7 linked regions of the Homo sapiens genome follow. The protein of the gene in region 6 purifies or fractionates together with the protein of the main gene of each other region. This does not show direct contact. Each region holds a gene or a part of one and is shown on either strand. Other genes may lie near its edges. The genes, in order: NDUFAF7, LRP2, FBLN1, NUDT12, PPP2R5E, ZNF517 and LRP1B.

Evidence for each region.
Region 1: the proteins of ZNF517 (region 6) and NDUFAF7 purify together in Homo sapiens (affinity purification with mass spectrometry; 2 studies listed by BioGRID and IntAct, with this or other methods). This does not show direct contact.
Region 2: the proteins of ZNF517 (region 6) and LRP2 purify together in Homo sapiens (affinity purification with mass spectrometry; one large-scale study listed by BioGRID and IntAct). This does not show direct contact.
Region 3: the proteins of ZNF517 (region 6) and FBLN1 purify together in Homo sapiens (affinity purification with mass spectrometry; 2 studies listed by BioGRID and IntAct, with this or other methods). This does not show direct contact.
Region 4: the proteins of ZNF517 (region 6) and NUDT12 purify together in Homo sapiens (affinity purification with mass spectrometry; 2 studies listed by BioGRID and IntAct, with this or other methods). This does not show direct contact.
Region 5: the proteins of ZNF517 (region 6) and PPP2R5E purify together in Homo sapiens (affinity purification with mass spectrometry; 2 studies listed by BioGRID and IntAct, with this or other methods). This does not show direct contact.
Region 7: the proteins of ZNF517 (region 6) and LRP1B purify together in Homo sapiens (affinity purification with mass spectrometry; 2 studies listed by BioGRID and IntAct, with this or other methods). This does not show direct contact.

What each region holds. Positions count from the first base shown.
Region 1 is NC_000002.12:37,234,658-37,238,157, forward strand, and holds part of NDUFAF7 (protein arginine methyltransferase NDUFAF7, mitochondrial), read left to right. Parts: intron 1-1,438; coding exon 1,439-1,519; intron 1,520-3,099; coding exon 3,100-3,210; intron 3,211-3,500. UniProt on the Homo sapiens protein: Arginine methyltransferase involved in the assembly or stability of mitochondrial NADH:ubiquinone oxidoreductase complex (complex I).
Region 2 is NC_000002.12:169,244,035-169,247,534, forward strand, and holds part of LRP2 (low-density lipoprotein receptor-related protein 2 precursor), read right to left. Parts: intron 3,482-3,500; coding exon 3,344-3,481; intron 2,953-3,343; coding exon 2,671-2,952; intron 899-2,670; coding exon 659-898; intron 1-658. UniProt on the Homo sapiens protein: Multiligand endocytic receptor. Acts together with CUBN to mediate endocytosis of high-density lipoproteins. Mediates receptor-mediated uptake of polybasic drugs such as aprotinin, aminoglycosides and polymyxin B.
Region 3 is NC_000022.11:45,505,883-45,509,382, forward strand, and holds part of FBLN1 (fibulin-1 isoform D precursor), read left to right. Parts: intron 1-3,500. UniProt on the Homo sapiens protein: Incorporated into fibronectin-containing matrix fibers. May play a role in cell adhesion and migration along protein fibers within the extracellular matrix (ECM).
Region 4 is NC_000005.10:103,548,355-103,550,572, reverse strand, and holds the end of NUDT12 (NAD-capped RNA hydrolase NUDT12), read left to right. Parts: 3' UTR 1-1,718; downstream 1,719-2,218. UniProt on the Homo sapiens protein: mRNA decapping enzyme that specifically removes the nicotinamide adenine dinucleotide (NAD) cap from a subset of mRNAs by hydrolyzing the diphosphate linkage to produce nicotinamide mononucleotide (NMN) and 5' monophosphate mRNA.
Region 5 is NC_000014.9:63,382,878-63,386,377, forward strand, and holds part of PPP2R5E (serine/threonine-protein phosphatase 2A 56 kDa regulatory subunit epsilon isoform), read right to left. Parts: intron 1,695-3,500; coding exon 1,567-1,694; intron 1-1,566. UniProt on the Homo sapiens protein: The B regulatory subunit might modulate substrate selectivity and catalytic activity, and might also direct the localization of the catalytic enzyme to a particular subcellular compartment.
Region 6 is NC_000008.11:144,801,913-144,805,412, reverse strand, and holds part of ZNF517 (zinc finger protein 517), read right to left. Parts: intron 2,544-3,500; coding exon of another isoform or gene 2,499-2,543; coding exon 2,466-2,498; intron 1,773-2,465; coding exon 1,646-1,772; intron 1,289-1,645; coding exon 1,175-1,288; intron 1-1,174. UniProt on the Homo sapiens protein: May be involved in transcriptional regulation.
Region 7 is NC_000002.12:140,350,017-140,353,516, reverse strand, and holds part of LRP1B (low-density lipoprotein receptor-related protein 1B precursor), read left to right. Parts: intron 1-444; coding exon 445-564; intron 565-2,478; coding exon 2,479-2,720; intron 2,721-3,500. UniProt on the Homo sapiens protein: Potential cell surface proteins that bind and internalize ligands in the process of receptor-mediated endocytosis.

The sequences.
Region 1 (3,500 bases), on a different chromosome or scaffold from region 6:
CTTGATTTATTTTGAATGCTGAAGGGGGAAAGTTGAAGCTGGAAGAGAGAAGGGGACAGCTAAAAGGACTCAGGGGAGTTGTATGAGGAATGGTCCAGAGCACAGGCGGAGGGATTAGGTTTGGATGAGAGGAGAAGGGGAAGGCATTTCATTCTTGGAGTCCCCAGATTAGGTTAGAGGCCAGGTGGGGATGGGAAGCTGAGGAATTCGTATTTTATAACATTCTTTAATTCTGGAGTGAGACTGGGGCCCATGTCACCTGTAGTAAGGTGGTAGAATAGGAGCTTGAGAAGCATAAGAAATATTTAACTCAATTCTTGAGTGTTTCTTGAAGGTTAGGCATCGTGCTAAAACTTGGGATATGAAGATAAATAAGGCATGATCTTCTGCAAACAACTATACTTTGTGGTGAAGAACAGAGACAAATTAGCTCAGAAAAGGTGGCACTGGATTTGGCCTTAGGTTGGAGGGCTGGAGGAGGTCAGCTAGGTGGCATTTGAGCAGATTCGGAGGTTGAGTATAAGACTGCCAGGGAAAGTTGAAAAGGGAGAAGGGTGAGGATTTGCAGTGGCATGGATGTCTGGACAAGCAAGGCTAATAAGAAAAAAAAAAACAACCCTTTTTCTGGAGATATAATATTCATATAGAAAAGTTCATAAACCACAAGTTTACAGCTCAATGAATTTTCACAAAGCAAATGCTCCCATGTAACCAGCACCCAAATCAAGAAACAGAACATCACCAGCAGGCAGGGCCCATATGTGAGGCAGAAAGTGTTAGAATTTGGAGAGGAGGCTGGAGGAGTAGGCAGGGTCTTGCTGTGTTGGGTGTGGGAGCTGGGAGGGGAGGAAGGGTCTGGCGTGCAGAGATGGACGTTACATGACTTCTGCCTTTACGGTCAAGGTGTAATTGTTTTTCTACCGGTTTTGTAAAATGACTGTTACTTTGTAAAATTTGGGTAAAGACACCATATTTCCCTTGCTTATTTATTTATTTATTTATTTATTTATTTTTTGAGATGGAGTCTCACTTTGTCACCTAGGCTGGAGTGCAGTGGCGCGATCTCGGCTTACTGCAAGCTCTGCCTCCGAGGTTCACGCCATTTTCCTGCCTCAGCCTCCCAAATAGCTGGGACTACGGGCACCCTCCACCATGCCCGGCTAATTTTTTTGTATTGTTTTTAGTAGAGATGGGGTTTCACCATGTTAGGCAGGATGGTCTCAATCTCCTGACTTCGTGATCCACCCGTCTCGGCCTCCCAAAGTGCTGGGATTACAGGCATGAGCCACCACACCTGGCTCCCCTTGCTTATTTAGAGGAGAGAACTTTCTTACTAAATAATTATTTCACTTTTACATTATTTAAGATTTTGGAGGGGTATTTTTAAAAGGCTTATTTGAAAATTAATTTTGTTTCTCTATTTTCTCTTTTTACTCAGGGTTATTATGTGTACCGTGACATGCTAGGCGAAAAAGGAGATTTCATTACTTCACCTGAAATAAGTCAAATCTTTGGGGAGGTAATATACTATGTAAAGTATGAATGAAGCTAATATAAACATTTGAGAGCAGATCAAATTGTATTATTCTGTAGTAGTGTTCTACAGCTTTTTTTGTGATTCATCAAAAGTTTTAACTTTATAGTAGTTTATGTACTGAGGGAATAGAGAGGCAGTAGAGGGGAGTAAAATGGTAGAGAGAATATTTGAAAAGTTTATACTCCACTGTAGGAAGGGAAATGGAGAGATAAGAGGGACAAAGAGAAAGAGAAGGAAAGGAGGGGGTCATAAAGAGGACAGAAAAAGGAGAATCAGATGAAGGAAGAGAATGGAAGAAGGGGCCAGGCGTAGTGGCTCACACCTGTAATCCCAGCACTTTGGGAGGCCGAGGCAGGCGGATCACAAGGTCAGGAGATCAAGACCGTCCTGGCTAACACGGTGAAACGCAGTCTCTACTAAAAAAAAAATACAAAAAATTAGCCGAGCGTGGTGGCGGTCGCCTGTAGTCCCAGCTACTTGGGAGGCTGAGGCAGGAGAATGGCGTGAACCCGGGAGGCGGAGCTTGCAGTGAGCCAAGATGGCGCCACTGCACTCCAGCCTCGGCGACTGAGCAAAACTCCGTCTCAAAAAAAAAAAAAGAGAATGGAAGAAGGAAGAGAGACAAAAGGAAAGGCGAGGAAAGAGGTAGAGTGCCCAGGAGAGTGCCCGGGAAGGAAGAGAGAAAAGATAAAGAGCATTGAAGAATTAGTGGAATTAAGAGAAGCTCTAAAGCTCCCAGTCATGATTTTAGCCGTACTTACAGTAAAAGTCTTCTTTTATTTATCTATTTTTTGAGCCAGGGTTTTGCTCTTATTGCCCAGGCTGGAGTGTAGTGGCGCAATCTCGGCTCACTGTAACCTCTGCTTCCCGGGTTCAAGCGATTCTCCTGCCTCAGCCTCCCGAGTAGCTGGGATTACAGGCATGTGCCACCACTCCTGGCTAATTTTGTATTTTTAGTAGAGACAGAGTTTCTCCATGTTGGTCAGGCTGGTCTTGAACTCCCGACCTCAGGTGGTCCACCCGCCTCAGCCTCCCAAAGTGCTGGGATTATAGGCGTGAGCCACCACGCCCAGCCAAGTCTTCCTTTAATAAACAGAATTCTAATTCATTTCCACTAAGTACCTTCTATGAATTTAGAAATAGGAAATAGTGTATACGAGGAAGTAGAATGTGCGTATCGAAAAACATTAGTTATTATAAGAATCATGTAATTGTTTAAATCATATGAATATGAAGAAATGGCATAATCACATTTCATATGTTTATTTGCTTTCAAATACTAATACCTTTCTGCTAGTGATATCCTCTTATCTATGTCATGGGACCTTTTATAGCAGAGGCTGCCTTATTTTTTCCTATTAATCTTCCTAAATGGTGTATGTTATGATGTAGTCCCAGGAAGTTCCTATGTGAACATGTACGTATGTATTGAACAACATACATATGGCTGTACACATTTTGCTTTTTGGCATATAGTGCATATTTATGTGAAATTTTATATTGTGGTATACTTTTATACTTTATAATACTTTAATATGTGTTTTTTTTTTCCCTTTTCACAGCTACTAGGTATATGGTTCATTAGTGAATGGATGGCCACTGGAAAAAGCACAGCTTTCCAGCTGGTGGAACTGGGCCCAGGTAGGGGAACCCTCGTGGGAGATATTTTGAGGGTAGGTAATAAAAGAATGTCTTCTAGTCTCATATAAGTGAATTTTAGTACTTCTGAGTGTGCAAACCATGTTGATTTCATTGGTTTTCAGTTCCTTAATTTCATATTTCTCAGCTAAAATATAATGTCAGAATAATGTAATCAGTCATTACTTACTGTTGTCTGTAAACTTAAAAATTGGAGGGGAGGGGGAGAATATGAAAGCTAAAAATAGGAAACATTTAGAAGACATTATGGGAGAGTGTATTTGTTTCCTCAGGAAGGAAAGTTGTTAATTATATTAAAAGTTTA
Region 2 (3,500 bases), on a different chromosome or scaffold from region 6:
CACAACATGAAATTATATTAAATACACACTTATAGGGTATGAAAGCTAGAAGGGATCTTAAAGCTCATCTATTCCAAATGATAGTGACTTGCCTAGTCAGGCAACCAGGACTAGAACTTAGCCCAGGGAACTTTGCTCCATCTTAAACTATTATTGAAGACATGAAATAAAACAACAAGCTAAAGGAAAGCAGAACTGGCAAGATGGAAAACAGGTGGATAAGATCAAAGGAAATTTAAATTTTCTGTGCCTCTTTATTTTGATGTCTTTTTGCTTGTACCAAATGAAAAAGAAACATCAATAGCCAAAGGTCTGGATATATCTATATGACTTTTAGTATTGTTTTAAATATATAAATAGATAGCTGAGGGATTTTCACTTTTTCAATTCCTATCTGAATTGAAATGTTTGGCATCAGAGGCAGTCCTTGCTTTGCTTCCATAGAACTCAATATTTGTAGGTGGACTCTAAGAATCCCATGTGCAGGCACGTGCCTTTGTTCTTGTAACCTATTGACACAGAGATTGACAAGTGGAATAGAAGTACTAAAGAGACAATGAAAATTGCATGAGCCTTAGAGGAAAGAATGCAAGGCCATTTGGTTGTTGAAGTCTATTTACGAGGCTGACCAACCAAGGGAAACCAGCTCAAAACTTACTGCAGTTCTTTTCATCAGATCCATCCCCACAATCATTGTCTGTGTCACAGACCCAGTTCTTTGAGATACACTGGTGATTATCACAGGTGTATTGGGTGTCAAGGCAGGAAGCAGGTGCGTGGGTGGGGCAGTTGTGCTCATCACTGCCATCCACACAGTCGTTGCGTTTGTCACAGCGCCAGTGTGCAGGAATGCACTCCCCATGGCCACAGGTGAACGCCGAAGATGAACAGGTATTATCTACAATAGTAACAAACTGGTCATGAAGACATTTGTTTTTACAGCCTTTTAAATGAGTTCTTGCCTTATAAAGGCTCAGTTCACCTTTTTTAATGGAGGCATTGTATATAATAAGGAGAAATGTTCATCAAGTGATGTCATCATCACTAACATCATTATTGGCTGGCATTTATTTGGTATTTATCATAGAAAAGGCATTTTTCTAAGTTATGCACCCACACACATCATATAAGTTCTCTTTAAATCCTCACAAGAATACTATAAAGTACATATAATTGTCTGCATTTTACAGATAAGGAAATTGAGTCTTTGAGAGATTTAGGAACCTGCCTATGATTCACGCTCTGGTTGGATTCACTCTAAAGCTCATCCTTAACTTTCAAGCTGTTACTTCCTCCAACCACAATTTCAAATTCAGACTATAGAAAGCTTGAAAATATGTCATATGAAAAGTGCAAATAGATAAAATATTAAGGTAAAATGCTGTGCTCTTAGAAACAAGAAGATAATACACAAAAAGATGAAAATTTAAAAAATTTCAGAAAAATGTACAAGTGAGCACTTTACTCTTGCAAATCTGTCACTCCTCTTTCTCTCCAAAAGAAAGGTTATTATTAGTATTAACTTCACCTTGATAGAGATTTCTGAGATTTCAACTGTCCTCTATCTTTTTTTTAATTTGAATGTAATACTTTTGCCTTCTGCAATAGTGTTTATTAGGCCCCAAACTATATAGACTAGATTACCGTCAAAAGAAGAATATAAAGGTTAAGACCACCATTTCATTGTTAATTTATTTTACTCTAACATGGGAGAAAAGGAATATAACACATGAGATTTTCCAAAGGCTATGATTGCAAGTAGTTATTCTGTGATACTATTCTCTCGGTTGCTAAATGTTAGGTCTACTTTATTTTTGGTTTTTGTTGTTGTTGTTGTTTGTTTGCTTATTTTTTTGAGGCAGGGCTTCACTCTGTTGCACAGGCTGAAGTACACGGCACAGTCTTGGCTAACTGCAGCCTCAACCTCCCCAGCTCAAACAACTCTCCCACCTCAGCCTCCCAAGTACAAATTTTTGTATTTTACAAATTTTGTGAAAATACAAAATACAAATTAGCTGGGTGTGGTGGCATGTGCCTGTAGTCCTAGCTACTTGTAATTTTGTTTTTTTTGTATTTTGTAATTTTGTATTTTGTAATAGTCCCAGCTATTTGTAATTTTATATACATATTTTTTTCTGAGCTCATCTATTTCTTTTTTATTTATTTATTATTATTATACTTTAAGTTTTAGGGTACATGTGCACAATGTGCAGGTTAGTTACATATGTATACATGTGCCATTTTATATTTTTTGTAGAGACCGGATTTCGTCATGTTTCCCAGGCTGGTCTCAAACTTCTGGACTTAAGCAATCCTCCTGTCTCGGCCTCCGATTACAGGCATGAGCCACCTTGCCTGGTCAGATCTAGTTTATTTCGATTTGACTTTTTGAGGAGTTTGCCAAGACATAATGACTGCATTGGTCCAAACAGCCAATGTCAAGGAAAAAAATTGTTGAAGATAGTCTAAATCAAGGCCAGAAACCATCCATAACATTATGAATGAAATTTCTTGCTTAGCTTCCTAAAAGCCTTCAAAGTGCATGTTAAGAATCTGAAATTCTAAAAGATATTTTTCCCATATAAATAGCCCAAGCTTTTATTTATTTTCTTTAAAGCCCACCTCTACTCTATTCATCCCAGGAAATATCGCCAGTGCATAGCTACTTACTAAGTGTGCCACATAGTTGCTCATCACTGTTATCATGACAATCATCGACTCCATCACAGAGATAGTAATTGGGCACACATCTGCCATTTTTACAGGGGAAGGAAAATAAGCCACACTGCTCTGTGGGTGGTTCATTGGTTGGGTCCCCCTCGCATGTCAAGTGATTGGAAGCCAGCCTCATTCCATAAGGGCACCCACACACTCGCTGGAAATTTGGCACCGGGAAGCAGAAGTGGCTGCAGTCACCGTTAGGATGCGTGGGTTGATTACAGGCGTTAGAACCTGCAAAAGCAAAGCCCCGAGGGAGTCAGTCATGTACATTTTCACTAGGTAGGTCACGGGTTTGATTTGTGAAGGAAAACAAACAGGACAAAACATTTTTCAGACCCAATACTAAAAAGTAGCTTCCTCTTGGAAATCAACCCGCCAAATACAACATTCCATTTAGGTATGGAAAAGTCCCAAAATGTGTTTTTCCTGACAACATGTTTAAGGCTAGCAGCATTGAACAGAGATTTCAAGTCTTACACTCTTAGATTATGTGAACGACAAGAATATAAAACTACCAGGAGCTAGACCTTTAAGTAATAAGTACTTAAAGAGAACAGGAGCCACTGTAACAAATAAATAAACCCATACAAAAAAATAAAAAAAACTGGGCAATCTCACTCACCAGTCTGGATGTTGACATCATACGATTTCAAATGCAGTATGTAAGCAATGCCACTTCGGATAACTGTCATTTCTCCACCATCTGCTTTCCTGACTCGAATAATGGCACCCAGTCTCCAGTCAGTAAAAAATAAATGCTCTGAAAAGAAACATGGGTA
Region 3 (3,500 bases), on a different chromosome or scaffold from region 6:
TGCTTCAGCCTCCCCAGCAGCTGGGATTGCAGGCGCCCATCACGCCCAGCTAATTTTTGTACTTTTAGTAGAGATGGGGTTTCACCATCTTGGCCAGGCTAGTCTCGAACTCCTGACCTCAGGTGATCCACCTACCTCGGCCTCCCAAAGTGCTGGAATTACAGGTGTGAGCCACCGTGCCGGCTGGCAGCCCTGTTATTAATGTTAGCTATTATTCCTGTTGTCCCCTTCTCTAGGAAGTGTTGGCACCAGGAGCCTTCGCAGCCCTTGGGGGCTCCCTGGCGGCTCCTTGGAGGAGATGAGGCTTGATGTGAGGGGAGCGCGGGAAGAGCGCAATTCTGCCAATACCCCAGAATTGTTTTCCCCAAGATGCCTCTGCACATTCTACTACTACTGAATTTCCCAGCCAGGCGCTGAGCAGAAGGCCCCATGGGGCTATAGGACTGGTAGTCGTCAGTGCCAAACCCGTGTCAGGAAAGGTGGTGTTCTTAGCCATTCAGTCATTCATTCACTAAGGGACAGCTCAGTGCCAGACACTGCTCTATAACTTGTGGATGTGGCAGGAAAGGAGAGAGACCCAGTTTTTCCCCCTCATGCAACTAGGAGATCCAGAAAAATGAACTGAGCCCTACTGGCAGAGTCAGGGAAGACTTCCCGGAGGAAGCGGCATGCAAACTGGGAACCTAAGGAGGAAAAGGCAGTGGCTAAGTCTGTGGGTAGGGCTGGGAGGATGGGGGAAAGGGTGTTCCTGGCAGGGGAAATGGCAGGGCCAAATACCTGGAAGGAAGAGAAAACACGAGACTTCCAGGGAAACCCCCTCCTTCTACCCACTTCCAGTTCCTTCCAGTTCCACCCCCTCCTCACCACTGGGGGAGACTGTGCTGTCTAGAGACTTCTCCAGCAGCTTCCCTGACCTGGTGAGACTTTAAGCCCGGGCTCTGAGCACTGGGCACCTGGTCAGGGCCGCCTTCCAGGTGAAGTTTATTAGAACAGTTCTAAGAGGGCATGTAGTTATTTTGCCAGCATATTTTATACAACAAGATTTTCCTTTTGCAGAATAGCAAATCATAACAATTTGATGAATGAATCCTTTCGTAGGCCCCATATGGTTCCAGTTTCCTTGTGATGATCTCACATGTGGCCCTATAAGTAAACAGGGTGGGAGGGGGGAACCACTGTGTCAACTTCCCTGGGATAGGAGACCCCCTCAGGCTGGAGGGGAGCTCAGGACTGGCTAAGTCATCTGCCACAAGTCACCCAGCGAGGAGCGGGGCTGGGGCTGGGCCTAGAGCTGGGCTGGGCCCCACCTCCTTTAACCCCACAGTGGTCCTAACTAGAGGCTGGGGTGGGAGGGAGCGAGGCACCAGTCGCCATAGCTTCCTACAGGTTATTTGCGGGTTACTACACTGTGCGGAGCCAACATGAGAAGGGGGTTAGGAAGCTGTGTGTTGGTCCCAATTCTGAAAGTGTCTGGAGAGATCTTGATGACACCCACAAACTCTCTGCCTCTGTTTCCTTCACTATAAGATGTGAGTGTCCTCTGGGTAATTATTATAGGTGAAATGCTTTACATTTAGTAACCAATGTCGTCATCTCAGCAGCCCTACGAAATAGGTGATCCAGTGTTGTTTTGAACCTATTTTTATTTTTTATTATTATTTTTGAGACGGGGTCTCACTCTGCCGGCCAGGCTGGAGGGCAGTAGTGTGATCTCGGCTCACTGTAACCTCCACCTCCTGTATTCAAACCATTCTCCTGCCTCAGTCTCCTGAGTAGCTGCGACTACAGGCATGCGCCACCACACCTGGCTAATTTTTGTATTTTTAGTAGAGATGTAGTTTCACCATGTTGGCCAGACTGGTCTTGAACTCCTGACCTCAAGTGATCCACCTGTCTCGGCCTCCCAAAGTGTTGGGATTACAGGCGTGAGCCACTGCGCCTGGCCCTGTTTTTCATTTTGGATCCTGTTACCCACTGGAGTGAAAAGGTCCTGTGAGTTTTGCTACCTAGGTATGAAGCCCGGCTTCTTGTTTTGGCCTAGAACTCCTCTATGGACCTGCACAGTGCCATTTCTGAGAGTCACTGATGCGTGTGATAGGTTGAGGATGGAAATCCAACACCTGTGCACCCAGCATGGTCTCCCCACAGCACGGGGACTCGAGCACCTTCCTGCCCCACCCCTGCCCCAGTTCACCTGTGTTACCTAGCTATACCCTCACCCTAGCCCTGCAAAGGAGGTGCTGTCATTGTCCCCCTCATCAATGAGGGGACATGGAGGCCCAGAGAGTCCAGGTAGCAAGACTGTGGGTGCATAGCTGCTAAGTGACAGCAGCAGGACTTGAGCTTGGGCAGCTTGGCCCTGACGTCATACCCCTCACCAGCACACTGGACAGCCTCGCGTATCTTTTTTTTTGAGACGGAGTCTTGCACTGTCTGGGGTGTGATCTTGGCTCACTGCAACCTCTGCCTCCCAGGTTCAAGCAATCCTCCTGCCTCAGCCTCCCAAGTAGCTGGGATTACAGGTGCCCGCCACCACGCCTGGCTAATTTTTTGTATTCTTAGTAGAGACGGGGTTTCACTATGTTGGCCAGAGTGGTCTCTAACTCCTGACCTCGTGATCTGCTCACCTTGGCCTCCCAAAGTGCTGGAATTACAGGCGTGAGCCACCGCGCCCAGCCAGCCTCACGCACCTTTAGAAGACTTGAATCTTTAAGTCTAGTTCAGGGGGGGATGCCTGTTTCCTTTGGAGTGTGATGGTGGGGTGTGTATGAGCTTTACAGTCAGAGCTGGATCTGAAGCCTGCCTCTGCAGAGGCTGCATGGCCTCGGGCAACTTGGTGATTCTCTCTTTGCCCCCACTTTATAGAATACCTAGGATCATGTGAGATCATTTGTGCGTTCATTCATTCACGGACATTTATTGAATGACTGCTTAGGGCAGGCATGGGGGCAGGAGGCAGAATGAGACAGTGTCTGGCTCAGACTCATGGCACTAAGTACAGAGTTAATTATTTGTGCTAAGTGCTGGGAAGCTCAGAGTACAAAGAGACCATGCAAGAAAGAAAACATATTTGTCCCATGTGCATGCGTGTATATGTGCATATGTGTGTGCATTGGCGGTAGTTAGGGAGGACTTCCTGGAGGAAGGGACCTTTGAGCTGGTGTGGCATGAACAAGCTGGCCTGAGGAGAGCAAGCGTCCTGGGACCCTCCAGCCTTTGAAGCTCCAGGTTCCAAATGCCAGGTGCAGAGGATGCATGACAGGTGGCCAGAGGGGTGAGAGGAACACCAGGGGAGATGCGTCCTGGAAGCCCAGGAGGCCCTTGGAGCAGGGTGGGATGTTGCAGAAGGATGAGGATGCCCCTCTGTGCACTGGGCTGATGTAGGAAGTTGCTGCCGGGGCCAGAGCTGCCTGGAGGGAACTGTGGGGAGAATGCTTCTCGCCTTCCCAGAGAGGTACCTTCTGCTCCTTCTCTCTTGCTGCCTCCTCCCGGCTGGTTCA
Region 4 (2,218 bases), on a different chromosome or scaffold from region 6:
TAAGAGACATCATGTTGGAAAGATGTTCTAGAAATGTGCATAAATTTCAGTGCCTCTTGTAAGCATTAAACTGATGATGAAGAAAGTTCCTGATTTGAGAAATGAATCAAAGTAATTTTAATGAATTTTTAGCTTGTATTAGCTTGAGTTAGCTGGCATTGATTTTTTAGTCCTTTTGTTACCTTTAAGTTGTCAATATATGGTTTTTGTTCATCTCCCCATTGTAGTCCCACTTGCTCTTTCCTGGGGGTTCCATTGTTCTAGCAGTGGAGGTGTTATAGTGTCGCCACTCGTCTAATTTGACCAGTGTTAAGAATTTTCTAATTTAATAATTTAATAGTGATCTCAATACCACACCCTCATGGAAGGAGAAAAGCATACTATTATATCTGGGACCTCTCTTTTAGACCTAAAATTAATTAACATATCTACTTATATGTTACTTATACCTAAAGCTGTTATTAAGACAAACCAAGATTCTCTGCTTTTGCACTGAAATTAAACTTGAAAGGAATTCTCCTCAAAGGTCGGATATTAAATAAGTCCCAGGCAGATTTACATATTTAATTTAAAACATTGGCTTTATTTCATTTTGTGATGAGTGATGTATCTGTGTTAACAAAAAATTGTATAATCATTACCAATACTATTTATTATGCTCAAATATATCTTGGCTTTGACCTTATTTCAACACATTCTAAGAAGCCTTGACAAAGTAAGTATATTTTAGAGCTGAATCAGTAAGATTCTAGAGAAAGCAAAACATAGTAGTTCACAATTTTGCAACATAGAAAGTCACATTTTGAAAGGCTATTTTGAAATTGATTTAATAGCTATTATAGTTTATGAATATCAAAATTTGTATAATTTGCATCTTTACTAATGTATGCTAGAGCTACAAGAGACCTTAAGGATAATATATGAAATTAGCTTTCCTTATTTTATAGATAAGGAAAAAGAAATTGTGAAAGGTGAATTTACCTAATTAGTGAAAGTTACATAACTAATTACAACAGTCTGTACTATATAATGCAGAGGACGATTCTCCCTGTAAAAGGAACTAGAAGCTATTACTAAAAATATATATAGACAAAATTAAAAGAAGGAATGATAAGAATAAATTTAATTTACCAAATATTGTTAATTAAAATTTTAGATACTTAACATTTATTTAACTTAAATAAAAGATAACTGTCAGATAAAACTTTATTTTACTAATGAGCAGTGATTTTCTTAGGAATTGATGAAGGCTTATTGGTATCAAGAATTTAAACCAAATTAAAACTGACAGAGGACATTTAGATACATAATAAAATTCGAGCTACATAAGTATATGGAAAATAATGTACCTTGATTATTATGAAATAGAGCATCTTGAAATTCAGTTTTACTCTAAATGTACTTTTAATACTTGCAGATTCTAAGATTACATTGTAAAATTCCAGGTTTTCATAATGTTAAAATAGGAAAGTAGAATATAAAGTATCAACAAGTGTAGTTATACATTTTGTTTTGGATATTTAATCCTTACTTGGGAAAAAATCAGCATCTAGGTAAATTATTATTTTAATAACAACTCTTAAATTGCCAACCTCTGAGAGGTGAAAAGCTATGTAAATAGAAGGAATGGCCAGTTCAAAAGAATAGTAGATGTGATAGTGCCGTGAATGTATTCTACTGGAAATGAATGTAATAATACATTAAATTTTTAAAATCTATTTTGTTTTGTGTGTGTGTTTAACATGTTTTGACAAGTGTCCTGAAAAATGAGAAAAGCTGGATTTCAGTCGTTAACCTGTTTCGAATTGATAATGTACAAGAAATGCAAAAGCCTTTTTAAAAGTGTCTGTGTTTGGGAGACTTAAAACTTTGATTTGAATCTTAAAGTATAGTTTGGGGTCAAATACAAACAGACTTACATATATACATACATATATAAAGTCAATAATTTTTGTTCTTCAGGTTTAAAGCGATATATCTAATTTTTATTACTTGTCTAATACTGCTAATTGTTGGATTTTGATATTTTCACATGTTGATGGAACATGAAGAGTTAGAAGCCCACATATTTTATTTAGTTGGAAAAATGAGAAATTCTTTTAAAGACCCAGTTAGGGATTTGGCTGAAGACAGAAAATAATAGGATAACAAAGGGAGAGACCAAGATGGAAGGAGGAAGAATAAGTTTGTTAATAAGCCAAATTAATCCCACATAACA
Region 5 (3,500 bases), on a different chromosome or scaffold from region 6:
TCATCAAAATCAGAAGCTACTTCCCTAGAAACAAATGTTATATATATATGTGTATATATATAAATTATTCTTATCCAAAGAAATGAAATCAAGCCCTCATGTAGGTTGGGTGGTTCAATATGAATTATCTGTCTAGCTCTGATCTGCACCAGTCCTGCTGACCCAAAATATATGCTGATAACTGGCAAGCTGGGATGGTTGCTATTAGCTATGGGACACTATACAGCTAAACAGCCAAAATGGTAGCCCATACTTAACAAGAATTAGCTCTTGGGCAATGTGAGGACAAGGTTATGATGGGCTTGATAGCTTCAGACTAGAGTCTAAATAGCTTTTCCTTTTGCAAAAATATCCGTTGCTTCCGTTTTGCAACAAACATGCTCCTAATACCACTGAAAAATGCATTGGTAAAAATTAGCCATATATTAAATAAACCATGAGTCTGATGTTTCCAAAACATTTACAAGAAAGTACACTTGCTGTGTAGCTTCTGCCTTGTGCCATTAAAAGGAAAATTTAAGTTCTTTTCTGTTAAGGTTCCAGAATGACCTTCCTCCCAAGGGCAGTGATGGGAAAGCACCAAATGTAGTATACTGAGTAGTTACAGACACTTGCTAGAACCGTTCTCTAGGTCCTCAAGAGACTATCTGTATAAAGGGACTTAACTGTTTATCAGCTCCTTATTTTTACAAGTTCTATTAATATAATTAGGCAAATTTGAAAAATTAGAAATGTGATATTTTATAATTACATGCAAAATTTTTAAAGATAAACATATTATGAATATACTGAATTGTATCTCCCAATTTTTAAATACCACATTAAATTTTCCTTCTATTCCACAGAGAAAAATGTAAAGGCATTCAAATTCAGAATGCTTTAACTTTCATAGGGCTGGATGTTAAACTTCCCTTGATGATTTTAAACTCCTTCCTTTCCAAGAGATACATATAGCGACTGAGTTGGCTGTTAAATAGATCACACTAAAATGAAAACCTAGTCAGACCACTTCCCCACTTAACAACCCTTCAGTACTTCCTCATCATCTACTTGGTGAAGGCTCACACGAGTCCCACAGTCTTTTCTAGCCACATCCTCTAGCACCCTCCCCAAAAGACCTTGTGCCTCAGCCCTCCCAAACTCACAGGTCTCAGAAACTGACAGCTGCTTTTTACATCTTTGTGCCTTTTAACATGATGGATGGACCCACTGTCTGAAAGGGCTCTCCCCATGCCATCCACCTGCCAAATTCCTTTCAGATTCAGTCTAAGCATGGCCATGCTGTCAGTATCTACACACCTCTCCTCTCAGCTGCAGTGCCTCCCCAAAAGATCTGCTACCTTCATAGACAGATCAAGAAGCCTGTCTAGTAAACAGATACTTTAACCGGTATTTTGTTAAAGTATCTGTTTATTTTCTCCAGTCAGTGAATCCCCAGAAGGTAAGGATTTTATCTTTTCACATACGTCTTCAGCAACAAGGACAGCATCTGGCACATAATAAGGCTGAAGGGAAAGAAAGAGAGGAAGGGAGGAAGAGAACGGAGGAAAGAAACTGAAAACCTACGGATTCCAATGTTCTTTTGAAATCCTATAAAGGCTGGAAAACATGATGGGAAGGATGACGTTAGAGTTTTCTTCTATCAAACTCATGATGTATTCATTATTCCAATAATAGAGTGCTCTTTCTGCCACCTTTGGGAAAAGAAAAATAAAATGTTAAGAGAGAGAAAAAGACAAAGATAAAACAAAATTATAAATCTTTCCAAACAAAAGTATTTCAAAAGGCTATTTGTAAATCATTCAATTAGAGGTAAAATTAAATATTAATCACATTTTAATATATATATATTTTTTGAGATGGGAGTCTCGCTAGTGGCGCGATCTCGGCTCTCTGCAACCTCCGCCTCTCGGGTTCAAGCGATTCTCCTGCCTCAGCCTCCCGAGTAACTGGGATTACAGGCACATGCCACTATGCCTAGCTAATGTTTGTATTTTTAGTAGAGGCGGGGTTTCACCACATTGGCCAGGATGGTCTCGATCTCCTGACCTCGTGATCCGCCCACCTCAGCCTCCCAAAAGTGTTGGGATTACAGGCGTGAACCACCGTGCCTGGCCCACATTTTAAATGTTTGTGGATTTTTAATCTCTTGGAAAATTCCAAAGTGGGCCAGGCACGGTGGCTCACACCTGTAATCCCAGCACTTTGGGAGGCCAAGGCAGGCAGATCACTTGAGCCCAAGAGTCTGAGACCAGCCTGGGCAACATGGGGAGACCTCGCCTCTACAAAAACACAAAAATTAGCCGGGATTGGTGGCATGTGCCTATAGTCCCACCTACTTGGGAGGCTGAGGTGGGAGGACTGCTTGAGCCTGGGAGGCGGAGGTTGCAGTGAGTGGAGATCATGCCACTGAACTCCAGCTTGGGTGACAGAGCAAGACCGTGTCTTCTCCTCCCACCAAAAAAAAAGTCCAGAGTGGTTCAAGTGGTTCATCGACTCAGGGAAGGAAAAGAAGTTTTCCTGTTAATTTATATTCTTCTCTAATTCTGCCCATGTCATCTGATTCCACACTTTCCTGACATCACTTTAGCACATCTCACTGGTCCCCTTTCTTATGTTTTTCATCACACACACTTAGATCGAACCCAGGGCCCAGCATATGGTTAGCATTCAGTCACAGCTACTGAGGAACACCCACAGTTGCTCATCCCTGTAGAGCGGCCAATATTTACTAAGTACCTCCTATGGGCAGGCACTGTGCCTACACAGCAAGTAGAATGTATCATCCTTACCACCATCCCAGAAGGAGATACCATTGTGCTCATTTTACAGGTGAGGACACAGAGACTCAGGGAGACTGAGTAATGTAGGCAAGGTTACACTGACAATATGGTAAAGACTGGGGCCTCATTTCTAGGGCTTCTTCCAGAGTTTGTTTCTGGTCCCTTCCTGTGCAAGCCAGGAGATGTCTGCTCAGTTTCTGGTCTCAGGGACACTGGCTGCACCTACCCTCTCTGCTCTCTTAGATCCCTTTTCTCTGCCCACCATGCTATCAACTGGCTCTAATTTGGTCTGCTGGGCCTGATTGGCTCATCTTGGATTTCATGAATTCAAAAGAACATCTCAAAAACAAAACCTAAAATCTCTAAAAAGGGTAGTTACAGGGGAAAAGGGAAAAAGGGGTGGCTTCCTTCATTTATACAGATTAAGAAGCCCTGTTTTAGAAGAGAACAAAATGGTATAAGATGTATCTACCGAAAGACACTGAGAAAACAGAATTTTTCCATTTACATTATTCAGCTTGGTTCAAAAAACAAAACAAAACCCTGAGACTCATTAGGCACCAGACCCTGAGAGTACAAAGAAAACAATCATTACTGCATGTTCACTATATGCCAGGCACTGTGCTAAGTGTCCCACATATATAATATCTCATTTCCTCACAACCAACAGAGTTGGTACCATTACTTTTCTATTTTGTGGATGAAGAATCTGAGACT
Region 6 (3,500 bases):
CTTGCAGTGAGCTGAGATCGCGCCACTGCTCTCCAGCCTGGGCGACAGAGCGAGACTCCATCTCAAAAATAATAATAATAATAATCTCTGTTCTACAATTATAACCTAGGAAAAACCAGGCCATACAGAGATAGGAGCTGAAGGGACACAGTGAGAAGTGACCAGAAGACAAGAGTGTGAGCCTCTGTCACGCCCGGACAGGGCCACTAGAGGGCTCCTTGGTCTAGCGGTAACGCCAGTGCCTGGGAAGACGCCCGTTACTTAGTTGACCTTGGTCTAGCAGTAACCCCAGTGCCTGGGAAGGCACTAGTTACATAGCAGACCTGGAAAGGGAGTCTTCCTTTCCCCAGGGTAGTTAGAGAAGACTCTGCTCCACCACCTCTTGTGGAAGGCCTGACATCAGTCAAACTCGCCCACAGCCATGCTGAGGCCTGACCGTCTCCCTGTGATGCTGTGTTTCAGTGGTCATGCTCCTGTTTCACTTTCATGTTCCACCCTGTACACCTGGCTCTGCCTTCTAGACAGCAGTAACAGAATTAGTGAAAGTACTAAAAGTCATTAAAATGCATAGAAGAAATAATGGCGTAAGCTGTCCTGTCTCTCTCTCCGCCTCGGCTGTCAAACAGGGAAGGACCCCCTGTCCGGTGAACATGTGACTCACATGACCTTATCAATCATTGGAAATGACTCACACTCTTTACCCTGCCCCTTTCGCCTTGTATCCAATAAATAACAGCGCAGCCAGGCATTCAGGACCACTACCAGTCTCCATGTCTTGGTGGCAGTGGTCCCCCAGGCCCAGCTGTCTTTTCTTCTATCTCTTTGTCTTGTGTCTTTATTTCTATGATCTCTCGTCTCTGCACATGAGGAGAAAAACCCACAGACCCTGTAGGGCTGGTCCCTACACAACCCAAGGGTAATGGCACTGTGAGCACAGACCCGGCCCCTGACACCTTGGGGACACCAAAATGGAAAACTCTCGCACTTGGGTCTTCCTGCATAAGTTAGTTTTGACCTTAGACCTACAAGCAAGGCAGTTAGTAGGAAATCTGGCCCTGCTGTGAGGAGCTAAACATACACACCTCCCACTGTAGAAGAAGGGACCTGCAGAGCTGCCCGGAGGCCAGGCCACATTGGCAGCACAGGACACGCCCTGTGGGTGCTTTGTACTCACCTGTGCACAGGCTGGCTTTGGCCACGCTCTGTTCAGCCACCTGCAGAATCAAGGCCCCCGGCTCCTCTCCTTGCTCCAATAGGGAGATCAGTGCTGGTTTGGCAACAAGAAAGCCTAAGCTCAGAGAAGGAAAGCAGCACGTATCAGTACAGGAGGGAGAAGGGACGCCCAGGTGCCTGGCTGGAGGCCATCAGGGCACAGAGTGCTTGGAGTGGGTCAGGAACATTCACTATCCCAGAAGGGGGCAGCTAGGTGGCCAGGGGGAGATGGGGGGCCTGCCCCAGGAGAGAAGCCTCAGGCAGGCTGACGCTGGCAGTGGGTGCCCAACAGGAAGCAGAGAGGGGCTCCTTGGGGAGCCTCCAGCTTCCCCTCAAAAATGTGTCAGACCTTGAATCTGCAATGGAACCAACTTCCTTTGAAGCTAACACAGACGCACCTCCCGGCCCCAGGACCAAAGGCAGAAGCCCTCACCTAGTGAGGCCAGGTTCCCATAGTTCTCCAGCATCACGTCCCTGTAGAGTGCCTGCTGGTCGGGGGCCAGGCAACTCCACTCTATCCTTGTGAAGTACACAGCCACATCCTCGAACACAACCGCCTCCTGCAACCACATACTCTGCTATCCAGGCAGTCAAGGGCTCGGTGAGAACCCAGCAGATGAGAAACATTTGCATGATCTGCTAGAGGCCTCTCTCCTTGCTGCCCACTGCTGCATCCACAGGGCCCAGCAGAGAAAGGGCAGCCCAACACCCCCCGAGTGAGCGGCCTCATTCTCAGCAGAAGCCCCAGAGAGGAAGAGGGAAAAACTGAACTTGGGGGAGGGAGAGAGATTTACCAGGAAGGGGGTCCCAACCTTGGCCTCGCCCTCTCCACAGGCTATCAGGGATTTGGGGAAGGAGCACCTGCACTGTGGGGAGCATCCCCACCCTCTGGGTCTCAATTTCTAACACCAGCAGTGAGTCAGCATCAGGAGAGGGAGGATGGGCTGACCATTCACACCAGGAAGGAGGCAGGCACTGGGGAAGGACAGGGACCCTGCCCTCAATGGCTGACCATAGAAGCTCAGGGGCCAGAGGAGGCCGCAGGAAGCCCACTTCTGCCCAAAGGCTGGAAGGATTTGGCAGAGCCATGTGTGAGGCCTGGCCATAGAGCGAGGAGGCTGTCCTCGGCTTGCAGACTCCATCCTGTGATGTGGGTGGGTGTGAGGCAAGCTGTAAGGTTCTCAGGGCTGAAAAGCTGAGGCTAGGGGCGAAGCAGTCTCCTGGGGCAATGGACGGGCTCAGGGGGTGCTCACCTGAGGTCCAGGCATCGGGAGTGCCATCGCCATTCCAGGGTCCCTCTGTGGAGGAGCAGATGCTACAGACAGTGAATTCTGAGGGAACATAGAGCCATGAGTGGAAAGAGCCCAGGCCTAAGGCCCTCCAGCCCCCCAGAAGGCCCCTCCAGATCCAGAAGGGAGCAGGAGAGGGTAAAGTGCTAGGGCAATCACATCAGCCGCCTCCTTCACGTCCCAAGGAGGTGTATCCAAGCTTCTCCATGGGAACACCCACTCCTTCCAATGTTTTCTGGCTCTCACCTTGCTGGGAGGCCTTCTGTGACCACCATTTTTTAAACTGCCACCTCCCCTCCTGCCTGGGAATTCCTTATCCTCGCTCCTTGCTTTATTTTTCTCCATAGCACTATGCCATCTGACATAAGACAAGTTAACTTCCTTGCTCCTTATCTGCCTTCCCCAATTAGACAAGGCCTCTGGTCTGTACCCCTAGGGCCTGAGGAAGGGCTTGGCACACAGCATGTGCTCAGAAAGGATTTATGAAATGAACAAAGCGTGACTGGTTAGAGCAAAATTATTGTTTTGTTTTGTTTGAGACGGGGTTTCGCTCTGTCGCCCAGGCTGGAGTTGGTGGTGTGATCTTGGTTCACTGCAACCTCTGCCTCCTGGGCTTAAGATTTCCTCCCAGGATGGCCAAGGTTGCACCATTGCACTCCGGCCTGGGCAACATTGCTCATTATGAAATGAACAATGGGTGACTCTGCAACCAATAAAACCATGTTGTGGGAACATCAGAAAACATTCTTGCATTTTACTACATGAAACAAGCAGACTGTAAGCAGAAAAATAAAGCTGGTAGCATAAAACTCTAGCTCTCTCTGCGTCATAGAATTATGAGTGGTTCCTCTTTTTCTCCTATTTTTCTTTCCTTTTTTTGAGACAGGGTCTCAATGCGTGACCCAGGCTGGAGCGCAGTGGTGTGATCTCAGCTCACTGCAGCCTCAACTTCCTGGGCTCAAGCAATCCTCCCACCTCAGCCTCCCGAGTAGCTGGAAC
Region 7 (3,500 bases), on a different chromosome or scaffold from region 6:
AGGTAGGTCATCAGAAACAGCTTAAAAGAAAACCTCAAGACAGGTCTATTTGCGTGAATGGAAATCTATACAACAAACCCCCATGGCACAAGTTTATCTAGGTAGCAAACCTGCACTTGTATCCATGAACTTAAAAGGTAAAAAAATAAATAAGTAAAAATTTTAAGAAAGAAAAAAGAAAGCCCCAGGGAAGTTTGAAATTGAAGCTTTAATATTTTAAGTGGATTAATAAAAGCAATGACAATTGATAAATCTTCTACTACAAATATTGTGAAAAATGATTATACCTTCAAAAATATGACACAGCAGGTCACAGATTAAAGATGTGAAAGGACAATAAAGCTAGTAATAAGTTAAAAATAATTTTGGCTTTTTTGAAACGTGGTAAGAATAGGAGTCTGAATTGAGGGTATGATGATGCTATTTTGAGCTCTTCTTTTCTAGACCTTAATGAATGTTTGGTGTTTGGCACATGTTCCCATCAATGTATAAATGTGGAAGGATCATATAAATGTGTGTGTGACCAGAATTTTCAAGAAAGAAATAACACCTGCATAGCAGAAGGTAAGATTATAACCACTATTGCAAATCCTATTACAATTTTGTTGTAAACATTTTATGGAGAAAAATGTTTTATATTTCATTCCAGCAACAGCTTCATTTCTGATAAAATACTTTTAATGATGATTAATTTGGCCAGTTGGTTAGTTAATATTAATGAATTTAATCTTAGATGGTTTATGGAAATGACTATGAAATATATGGTTACTGTTAAAATCACATTGTGTCATTGTGTTCAAAACAATTTTTCAAAAGGGGTAAAATTTTAAAAGCCAGTGTGATAGAATGTGAAGTATCTCTCTTGATGGTCTGCTCTAAGGGAATATGAGAAAAATTATACCCCAGGGATAAAAATAAACATTAGCATTATAAGGAGAAAGGAATTTTGAGTAAGGATTTTAAAGGTTTTAAAACAAGATCTTGCTTTCAAATTTAGAAGTCCTCCACTTACCAATATTATTTTTTAAAAAGATTAAATGATAGGCCTGGTGCAGTGGCTCATGCCTGTAATCCCAGCACCTTGGGAGGCCAAGGCGAGTGGATCACGAGATCAGGAGTTCAAGAACAACCTGACCAACATGGTGAAACCCCGTCTCTACTAAAACTACAAAAATTAGCCAGGCGTGGTGGTACACACCTGTAGTCCCAGCTACTTGGGAGGCTGATGCAGGAGAATCGCTTCAACCCAGGAGGCAGAGGTTGCAGTGAGCCAGGATTGCGCCACTGAACTCCAGCCTGGGTGACAGAGCAAGACTCCATCTCAAAAAAAGAAAAACAAACAAACAAAAAAAGATTAAATGATAAACTAGGGTTCTGGGCAATTGTAGGTATAGATTTTAATATTCATGTGTTTATGCTAAATAATACTGTAACTTCAATATTGTTGGCTACAAAGTATGATTGGACATTATTAAGATTGTTATTACAAGAAGAAAACAGGATGATGTAATGGATCAACTGTGGGCTATAGCATTTGATATGCTTGGATTTGAATCCCAGCACAGCACCTTTTAGACTGTGTGGCCTCAAGGAATTCACTAAAGTGTCAGAGCCTCAGTTCAGTTTCCATAGTTATAAGAAGTGGAGATAAACTGTGAAAGGCTTAACATAGCGTCTGACACATAATAAGCATTTGCTAAGTGACAGCTATTAACATTACAGAGCTGAAAGGCACCTCATGAGGTATTATTATTATTATTTATTTGCAGAAACTATGTATGCAATCGAACATCTCTTTAGGGCTTCGTTAATATTTTAATTGATAATTTTGGCATTTGCTTTAGGGTTTTACTTGTTAGTATGAAAATGACATTAGTACTCTATTGTAGGTGTCAAAACTTTAGAATAGAATGTTACACTTAGCAGGATTCTAGATAATTTAGAGATTATAGAACTTTAATGGAATAAATACTGATATCTTTTTATGTTAAAAGTTAGTAAGCATTTAAGATGTATAAATACAGTAAGAGGAAGATTCTTCATATTTTAATTTTTATTTCTTAGCCTAAAGTAATGATCACTCAGGTGCATAAATTAAGTAATCAGAAACTTTTGAAGCTTAATGAGTATACAACATAGTACTTGGATATTGACAATTGATGCATTATAACCTAGTGTATTGTGACTTATCAAATAATAATCTCTCTTCATAAAAGGACATTTATATGTACATAATTTCTAGCCATAAGGAAAGATTGGCAGTAGAAAAACCTCTATCAATAATTATTGTAAATGTTTAGATAAGTGAGTATCAGAAATAATAAGCCATAAAGACTAAAAGACAATATAAAACTGGTTGATTTTTGAGGAAAAACTGTATTAAGAATAATAATTCAAGATAATTTAAAAGTACAATTATTGCTTTTAACATTAGTTGAAATTTACTTTATTTTTGTATTTTATTATAATAATCTCCAGGCTCTGAAGATCAAGTTCTCTACATTGCTAATGACACTGATATCCTGGGTTTTATATATCCATTCAACTACAGTGGCGATCATCAACAAATTTCTCATATTGAACATAATTCAAGAATAACAGGGATGGATGTATATTATCAAAGAGATATGATTATTTGGAGTACTCAGTTTAATCCAGGCGGAATTTTCTACAAAAGGATCCATGGCAGAGAAAAAAGGCAAGCAAACAGTGGCTTGATTGTAAGTAAATACCATTGTATATTTGAAAGTCCATACCTTTTCCCCACCTGCTTTTTAAACAAAATTTATCTAATATAATATCTAATTATACTAAGTAATATATTCAATTATTCTCCCAATATTCTCCTTAAATAGAAATAATGCATTTCTCTACTCATTCTCATAGCTGTACATGATTTATTTTAGTTGCATGCTTTTATGTTTTTGCTTTAATGTATTTGACTATTATATAAGAATGCTAATGAATGACATATAACATCTCCAGAACATCTATTTCATAGTGCTTTACAATTATTATGAACATAAGCTTTTTTATCATGAGATGAGATTGGGAAACATCACTTTATTTTTACATTAGAAAGTAGCGTAATGCAGGGATAACTATTTCTCTTCTTACATTATCATAAATATACTTCTACTGTAGGGCAGGACATCAACTCAATAGTGTAACCATTTCTTCTGACTCCTGATAACTATATTTCAGGAAATATCCAAAACAGAAATATTGTGCACTTGTGTATGCTGGACATGTTGATTATCATGGTTATTGTTTTTGAGAAAAAATAAACTGGAACATGTTTCAATTTATGGTTGTAGATTAGATTATCCCTTTTTGTTTTAGGGCATGTCAAGTTATTGTGTGTTTTATATTTTTAAGTAACCTGGAAGGAAAATGACAGATAAATATGTGTTTTTATAGGGCCTGGCCCATTCCTGTACAACCAAAAAGTCAAGTGGTGTCCCAGCAGGATGTAATTGAAGCTTTGTGTTTAACAAAAA